2 separate regions of the Homo sapiens genome follow, and region 2 is linked to region 1. Evidence: fine-mapped QTL for protein levels in blood plasma. A gene starts in region 1. The other region holds a variant in brackets. All regions are shown on one strand. Distances are between the middles of the regions. Region 1 holds the start of PCOLCE (procollagen C-endopeptidase enhancer). Region 2 has its middle 3.6 kb from the start of AGFG2.

What was found. A credible set is the group of variants that fine-mapping cannot tell apart. PIP is the chance, under the fine-mapping model, that this variant and not a neighbour inherited with it causes the effect. Protein levels are from antibody-based Olink assays in UK Biobank. Linkage for the fine-mapping came from a reference panel and not from the study's own genotypes, which makes the PIPs less certain.
Region 2: its variant is the best candidate, but not a certain one, in a credible set for the plasma level of the PCOLCE protein (UK Biobank, PIP 0.60).

The regions. Positions count from the first base shown.
Region 1 is chr7:100,599,130-100,603,499 of GRCh38, forward strand. PCOLCE (procollagen C-endopeptidase enhancer) reads left to right here and starts at 3,234. Exons shown (of 9, transcript NM_002593.4): 1 at 3,234-3,422; 2 at 4,301-4,370. The coding sequence starts at 3,328. FBXO24 (F-box protein 24) reads left to right here. Exons shown (of 10, transcript NM_033506.3): 9 at 902-1,072; 10 at 1,405-1,988. The coding sequence ends at 1,770. It overlaps PCOLCE-AS1 (PCOLCE antisense RNA 1), which reads right to left. Exons shown (of 9, transcript NR_038910.1): 2 at 3,211-4,037; 3 at 2,491-2,554; 4 at 1,594-1,723; 5 at 911-1,060; 6 at 542-673. RefSeq lists an enhancer at 4,343-4,370.
Region 2 is chr7:100,533,430-100,537,807 of GRCh38, forward strand. No RefSeq gene overlaps it. Among named protein-coding and RNA genes, the nearest start is that of AGFG2, 3.6 kb to the right of the region's middle. RefSeq lists a cis regulatory region at 1-248. The variant TACTGGTC/T (reference allele first, on the strand shown) is at 2,593.

The sequences.
Region 1 (4,370 bases):
TGTATTCCCAACTACTCAGGAGGCTGAGGCAGAAGAATGGCTTGAGCCCAGGAGGTCAAGGCTGCAGTGAGCTATGATTGCACCACTGCATTTCAGCCTGGGCAACAGAATGAGACCCCATCTCTAAAAAAAGAAAAGAGAAAATAAAAATGCTAGAGTGGAGGCTGGGCTCAGTGGTTCATGCCTGTAATCCCAGCACTTTGGGAGGCCAAGGCAGGCAGATCACCTGAGGTCAGGAGTTCGAGACCAGCCTGGTCAACATGGCAAAACCCCTTCTCTACTAAAAATACAAAAATTAGATGGGTGTGGTGGCAAGGACCTGTAGTCCTAGCTACTTGGGAGGCTGAGGTGGGAGAATCACTTGAACCCAGGAAGGCAGAGGTTGCAGTGAGCCGAGATCGCACTGCTGCACTCCAGCCTTCCGACTCTGTCTCAAACAAAAAAAAAAAAAAGAAAGAAAGAAAGAAAAGATAATACTAGAGCAGGAAGGGAGGGATAGTGGAAGGGAAAGTCCTTCCTCAGGGTGGTGTTGGGGTCTAACCTGGAATTGCACAAGAAGCAAGTCTCCCCGAGGCTGGCAGGCAGGATGAGAGGCTGGACTGGCATAGACGGGTGGGCTGAGAATGAGGGGTACACCACAGCAGGCCCTGGGCTCAGGCAAGGAGCTGATTTTCTGGGGGCATAGATGAGATACCAACAGAAGTGCAAGACCCTATGTGACCAGTTAGAGTATGGGGGCTGCAGGGGTCAGCAGGGCAGACCTGGGGCGTGGGACAGTGCTGGCTCCCATTTCCTCCTCCCCAGTTCATTCTGCCCCGAGCCTTCCAGTCAACCTTTTCCCACCCCAGCCCCCCCGTCCCTTGGTGCTCCCTGCTCAGGGACCCTGGCCGTGTGTCCCCAGGTTTGTTACCTGCAGCGGCCCATCACCCTGTGGTGCGGCCTCAACCACTCCCTGGTGCTGAGCCAGAGCTCAGAGTTCAGCAAGGAGCTGCTGGGCTGCGGCTGTGGGGCTGGGGGCCGCCTCCCAGGCTGGCCCAAGGGGAGTGCCTCCTTCGTCAAGCTCCAAGTCAAGGTCAGAGCGGGGTCAGGAGAGTGGGCACCCAGGGAGGATGAGAGCCATGAACCAGGAAGCCCACAGGCTGTAGCTGGGGCTCCTGCAGGGACCCAGGGGGTCCCATTTCCCTAGCACCACCCCACCTCCCTCCTCTGCCGCACACCACGCTCTCTGCTTTCTCCCTTAGCAGACTGTGCTGGCCTTGCCCAACCTCACACACCCCTGGGACTTAGCCGGCTCAGGGCTGGTGTGAGAGGGAAGAATGCAATAGGCAGATTAGCCCGGGCACCCTGGGAAACCCTGCAAGGAAAGCACCACTCAGCCATGCCCCCTTTCTCTCCTCCTCCAAGGTCCCTCTGTGTGCCTGTGCCCTCTGTGCCACCAGGGAGTGCCTATACATCCTGTCCAGCCACGACATTGAGCAGCACGCCCCCTATCGCCACCTGCCAGCCAGCAGGGTGGTGGGGACTCCTGAGCCCAGCCTGGGGGCCAGAGCACCCCAGGACCCCGGGGGGATGGCCCAGGCCTGCGAGGAGTACCTCAGCCAGATCCACAGTTGCCAAACGTTGCAGGACCGCACGGAGAAGATGAAGGAGATCGTAGGGTGGATGCCCCTGATGGCCGCACAGAAGGACTTCTTCTGGGAGGCCCTGGACATGCTGCAGAGGGCTGAAGGAGGCGGGGGTGGTGTAGGGCCCCCAGCCCCTGAGACCTAATCCCCCTCATGCTAGCCTAGTCCCTGGAGGAGGGAGTCCGGCCCCAGGCCAGGGACTAAGGAGCAATGACCATTGTGCACATGCGTGTGGGAAGGGGTTGCTAGGGGGTGGGGACGGCTAACCAGGGTAAGAATGTTCAGGGGGCTGCCCAGGAGGGGCCCCCAACCTGACTATCATGGACAAGAGATTTGATGGATAGAATAAAAGGCTGCAGCGAGGCCTGGTGTGGAAGCCTTGGGGGCTGGGAGGGACAGGGGCAGGGATGGGGTGGGTGGGTGCCCGGCTTGGTGGGTGCAGGAGGGCAGGAGCCCAGGCAGGGGCAGGCAGCACAAGCAGCTCCAGGTCTCAGGTGCAGCAGAGCTGATGCTGCCTGAACCCTTCACATTGTTGTCCACTCCCTGCTCCCAAGAGCACACCTGGTCGTTTGGACTGGGAAGTTCTGGCCCTACCTTCTGGAACAACTCTATGCACAGATGCTCTTGGCTACCCCACTGGGATCCCCTGCCCACTAGACTTGTCCCCATCCTGAGGCAGCCTGTTCCTCCTGACCCCCGAAAGCTTCCCACCCATCTCCCTTCGGCCTGAAGCCAGCCCCCCTCCTCTCTCCCTTCTGTTTACCTCCCAGGTTTGGGCTCTATTTTCTACTCCTTCCACCTCTTCCTGAGTAACAAGGACACTCCCTTCATCCACACCCCATGCCTCCTGCCTTGCTTCCTGTACCTTCAAGTAGTTGGAAGAGGTCATGGGTGAGAATTCCTTCTCCTTGGCCTAGTCTGGCCCAGGTCTGGAGAGAAGGCAATGGAGATGTGAAGTGGAGGCCAGGTGTGGTGGCTACGCCTATAATCCCAGCACTTTGGGAGTCCGAGGTGGGCGGATCACCTGAGGCTAGGAATTTGAGACCAGCCTGGACAGCATGCTGAAACCCTGCCTCTACTAAAAATACAAAAATTAGCCAGGTGTGGAGGCATGCACCTGCAGTCCCAGCTACTCGGGAGGCTAAGGCACAAGAATTGCTTGAACCCGGGAGGCGGAGGTTGCAGTGAGCAGAGATCGCGCCACTGCACTCCAGCCTGGGTCACAGAATGAGACTCTGTCTCAAAAAAAAAAAAAAAAAAAAAAAGAAATTGAAGTGGAAAATGAGCTGGCAGGGGTGGTCAGGCAGGGGGTGAGCAATGAGGGCTCCTGAGCTGAGGAAGCAGGGGCGGGGGGAGGATGGGGGCTAGGGAGTCCTCAGAAGTTCCCGGAGATACTCCCTCACTGGACAGAGTGGGGTTCCCGATGACGTTACTTGAGGCCTGGGAGACGGCCTCTGCCCCTCACTGCTCCTCCCCCTCCTAAGGTCAACATTTATGTGTCCTAGACCTAGAGAGGTCCCAGGACACGCCACTGTCCCGCCTTCCCCATTGCCCGCCCCACTGGCCAGTCCCCACGCCCACACACCCAAGGCTGCCCCATCTGGCGCTGATTATCCTGCTGCTGCCGCCACCGCTGCTGCTGCTCTGCAAAATTCAGCTGCTGCCTCTGTCTTGAGGACCCCAGCGCCTTTCCCCCGGGGCCATGCTGCCTGCAGCCACAGCCTCCCTCCTGGGGCCCCTCCTCACTGCCTGCGCCCTGCTGCCTTTTGCCCAGGGCCAGACCCCCAACTACACCAGGTAGGTCTCTTGGCATCTTCCAGACAGCTCCAGTGAACTTCAGACCCCCGATTCCTTTGGGGTTATGCCTGGAGATATTTTGGGTTCCCTTGCTGACACACCACTCCCCAGATTCCCCACCGCCTCACCCTTCTCTGGCCCCCAAATCCTCCCCATCTGCTGCAAGACCTTGGTCTCCTGCAGGCCACCACTGCTCCCATTCCCCCACCTTCGTCCTCTGGTCTCTTAAGTCTCCCCACCCACCCAGATCCTTGACCCCCCATAGAACCCAAGAGAGAGCCAAGCTCCTGAACTTGCCTGGTAGCTGGATTCCAGGAAGGAATTCGAGAGGGATTGTAGGGGGAGGAGGGGGCAGTGAGTGGAGACTTGGGAGTCAGAATCTGAAGTAGTTTGGAACAGGGGCAGGGCTAAGGTGTGGAGCTCGCGGAGCCTGGCCTCCAGGTTCAATCAGAGGGCCATCGCCACTGCAGCTCCCTCCATCTCTCCACCCCCTCCCCCCCACCGCCTCGTGGCTGTGTCCACATCTGGAAGTAGTTAGGCGGCTCCTGTCCCTGGACTGCCAGGCAGAGTGAGGCGGGAGTCTGGAAGGGGGGCCGAGGAGGATTCCGGGAATTCCTGTTGGGGTGGGGGTGGGGACTCTTGGGGTTGGAGGGATGGTCGAGTTGCCAGGCCCACTTTTCCCTTATCTTTGTGGGAGTCTGGGACACCCCAGCCCTGTCCTGGCTGGTGGAAGCTGCCCCAGGTCTCTCAAGGCCTTTCCATTTCATCCCCCAGCTTCCCTCCTTGGAGTTTCATCCTCATCACCTCATCCCCATCTTGCCAGTGCTCCCCCGTCCCACCCGTCCCTGCTCTTTCCTGACCCCTTTTCTGTTCTCCAGACCCGTGTTCCTGTGCGGAGGGGATGTGAAGGGGGAATCAGGTTACGTGGCAAGTGAGGGGTTCCCCAAC
Region 2 (4,378 bases), 66 kb before region 1:
AGGGCAAAAGGTCTCCCCATGCTGGCTGTGCTCCCCCTGATTATGAAGGGAAAATGGGAGTGTTGCTCCCCAGTATGACCTGGGTGGAGTAGAGATGGGAGGAGGGTGAGCTCCTCAACGGCCCTCACACCACCACACCCAGTGGCAAAAATCAGCAGAAAACCATCACTATCTACATGAACGTTCTAATTTTTTTCACTCACTATTGGTGGTAGTTAAATTTACCAATTTGCTCAAAGTTGCAAGATGATAAGAAATAACCCTTGGCTCAGCTGGGCACGGTGGCTCACGCCTGTAATTCCAGCACTTTGGGAGGCTGAGGCGGGTGGATCACCTGAGGCCAGGAGTTCGTGACCAGCCTGGCCAACATGGTGAAACCCCGTCTCTACTAAAAATACAAAAAATTAGCCGGGTGTGGTGGTGGGCGCCTGTAATCCCAGCTACTAGGGAGGCTGAGGCAAGAGAATTTCTTGAACCTGGGAGGCGGAGGCTGCAGTGAGTCGAGATCGCACCATTGTACTCAACCTAGGCAACAAGAGTGAAACTCTATCTCAAAAAAAAAAAAAATGCTGAGCACGGTGGCTCACGCCTGTATAGCAGAACTTTGGGAGGCCGAGGTGGGCTGATCATGAGATCAGCAGATCGAGACCATCCTAGCTAACATGGTGAAACCTTGTCTCAACTAAAAGTACAAAAAATTAGCCGGGCATGGTGGCATGCGCCTGTGGTCCCAGCTACTCATGAGGCTGAGGCAGGAGAATCGCTTGAACCCAGGAGGCGGAGGTTGCAGTGAGCCGAGATTGTGCCACCGCACTCCAACCTGGGCAACAGAGTGAGACTCCATCTCAAAAAGAAAAGAAAAGAAAAGAAAAAAGAAATAACCCTTGGCTAATGAGAAGCTAGAGGAGGCATGGGCAGCACTTGGAAATTGTGAACTCTGCAATTCAGAAGGAATGTTTAGTAGGCTGAGATGCCCCATCTGCATATCTGGATGTGACGGTATTGCCTTCTTTTTTTTTGAAGAGGGGGGTGAGGGGGATAGAGTCCCGCTCTGTCACCTGGGCTGGAGCTATGCAATCTTGGCTCACTGCAACCTCTGCCTTCCAGGTTCAAGCAATTCTTGTGCCTCAGCCTCCTGAGTAGCTGGGATTACGGGCATGCGCCATCACACCGAGCTGATTTTTGTATTTTTTTTTTTTTGAGATGGAGTTTTGCTCTTGTTGCCCAAGCTGGAGTGCAATGGTGCGATCTCAGCTCACTGCAACCTCCAACTTCTGGGTTCAGGCGATTCTGCCTCAGCCTCCTGAGTAGCTGGGATTACAGGCATGCGCCACCATGCCCAGCTAATTTTGTGTATTTTTTAGTAGAAACGGGGTTTCACCATGTTAGCCAGGCTGGTCTCAAATTCCTGACCTCAGGTGATCCACCCCCCTCGGCCTCCCAAAGTGCTGGGATTACAGGCATGAGCCACTGCACCCGGTCTGGTGTTGCCTTTTTTTAGGGATGTTGAAATGCATGTGGCTGTGATAACTGGAGAAAAGGAACAAAGTACACATTGGGTGCCTAGGGTTTACTTCTGGGCCTGCTTCTAGTCTCTCTCTACATGCTGTACCTAAGCAACCAGTCCCATGGCTCTAAGCGATGACTCCTAAACCTACATTTCCAGCTCTGGCCTGGCCTGGAAATCCAGTCTATACATATCCACCTGCCTGCTTATCAGCCCACTGGATGCCTCACAAGGATCTCAAATCAACATGTCCAAAACCAAGCTACTGATTTCTGCCTATCAGCACCCCCTAACCCAGCAGTCCCCAACCGTTTTGGCACCACGGACCAGGAAGATAATTTTTCCACTAACCGGCGGGTGGGAGTTGGGGGATGATTTTGGGATGATCTGAGCACATTAAGTTTATTGTGCACTTTTTTTTTTTTAAACGGAGTCTCGCTCTGTCACCAGGCTGGAGTGCAGTGGCACGATCTTGGCTCACTGCAACCTCCACCTCCTGGGTTCAAGCGATTCTCCTGCCTCAGCCTCCCAAGTAGCTGGGATTACAGGCACGTGCCACCATGGCCAGCTAAGTTTTGTATTTTTAGTAGAGACGAGGTTTCACCATGTTGGCCAGGATGGTCTCGATTTCCTGACCTCGTGATCTGCCTACCTCAGCTCCCAAAGTGCTGGGATTAGAGGCGTGAGCCACCGCGCCTGGCCTGTGCACTTTATTTCTATTATTATTACATTGTAATGTATAACAAAATAATTATACAACTCACCATCATGTGGAATTAGTGGGAGCCCTGAGCTTGTTTTCTCGCAACTAGACGGTCCCATCTGGGGGTGATGGGAGACAGTGACAGGTCATCAAGCATTAGATTCTTATAAGGAGTGCATGACCTAGATCCCTTGCATGCGCAGTTTACAATAGGGTTCGTGCTCCTATGAGAATCTAATGCTGTTGCGGATCTGAGAGGAGGCAGAGCTCAGGCGGTAATGGGAGCAATGGGTAGTGGCTGTAAATACAGATGCAGCTTTGCTCATTTGCCCACCACTTACTTCCTGCTGCGTGGCCTGGTTCCTAACAGGCCACAGACAGG[TACTGGTC/T]CATGGCCCAGTAGGTTAGGCCCTGCCCTAACCTACTCCTCCTTTAGTCTCCCCTTTTCCTTTCCTTTTCTTTTTCTTTCCTTCTTCTTTCTTTCTTTCTTTTTTTTTTTTTGAGACAGTCTCGCTCTGTCACCCAGGGTGGAGTGCAATGGCGCGATCTCAGCTCACTGCAACCTCCACCTCCCACGTTCAAGCAATTCTCCTGACTCAGCCTTCCAAGTAGCTGGGATTACAGGTGCCTGCCACCATGCCTGGCTAATTTTTGTATTTTTAGTAGATTAAAGGGTTTCACTATGTTGGCCAGGCTTTTCTCGAACTCCTGACCTCGTGATCCGCCTGCCTCGGCCTCCCAAAATGCTGGGATTACAGGCATAAGCCACCACGCCCAGCCCATTTTAATTTAATTTAAACTTAAATAGCCACATATGATTAGTGGCTGCCGTATTGAAGAGAGTAGCTCTAGATTTTTGCTTTGGGCAACTAGGTGGCTCATGGTGCCATTAATTGAAAAATGGGGCCGGGTGCGGTGGCTCACACCTATAATCCCAGCACTTTGAGAGGCCAAAGCGGGCAGATGACCTGAACTCAGGTGTTCGAGACCAGCCTGGCCAACATGCTAAAAATACAAAAAATTAGCTGGGCATGGTGGCATGCACCTGTAGTCCCAGCTACTCGGGAGGCTGAGGTGGGAGGAGCACTCAAGCCCCAGGAAGTGGAGGTTGCAGTGAGCCAAGATTGTGCCACTGCACTCCAGCCTGGGTGACAGAGTAAGACCCTGTCTCAAAAAGAAAAAAACAAGAGAGAGAGAGAGAAAGCAGGCTGCCAGCCACCAGCCTGGACAACATAGTGAGACCCCTTCTCTACAAAAAATCAAAAATTAGCCAGGCATGGTGGTGTGCGCCTGTAGTCTCAGCTACCCTGGAGACTGAGGTGGGAGGATCACTTGAACTGGGGAGGTTGAGGCTGCAGTGAGGTATGATTGTGCCACTGCCCTCCAACCTGGGCAGCAGAGCAAGACCTTGTCTCAAAAAAAAAAAAAAAAACAAAAAAAACAAAACAAAACAAAAAGAGGCCGGGTGCGGTGACTCACGTCTGTAATCCTAGCACTTTGGGAGGCCAAGGTGGGTGGATCATTTGAAGTCAGGACTTCAAGACCAGCCTGGCCAATATGGTGAAACCCCATCTCTACTAAAAATACAAAAATTAGCTGGACATGGTGGCACGCACCTGTAATCCCAACTACTTGGGAGGCTGAGGCAGGAGAATCGCTTGAACCTGGGAGATGGAGGCTGAGGTGGGCGGATCACTTGAGCCCAGGAGGTCCAGACCAGCCTGGGCAATATAGTGAGACCCAATCTCTACAAAAAATTTTTAAAAATTCGCCAGGCATGGTGGTGCACAGCTGTACTCCCAGCTACTTGGAAGGCTGAGGTGGAAGGATCACTTGAGTCCAGAAGGTTGAGGCTGCAGTGAGCCATGATTGTGTCACTGCACTCCAGCCTGGGTGATAAAGCGAGACCCTGTCTCAAAAAAAAAGTAATTGTTTTAAAAATGGTGACCAACCCAATCTGAAGTACCCAACAGGTGGCCAGGCATTGTGGCTCATGCTTGTAATCCCAGCACTTTGGGACGCCAAGGCGGGAGGCTCACTTGAGGCCATGAGTTTGAGACCAGCCTGGCCAACATGGTGAAATCCTGTCTCTACTAAAAATACAAAAATTGGCCGGGCGCGGTGGCTCACGCCTGTAATCCCAGCACTTTGGGAGGCCAAGACCGGCG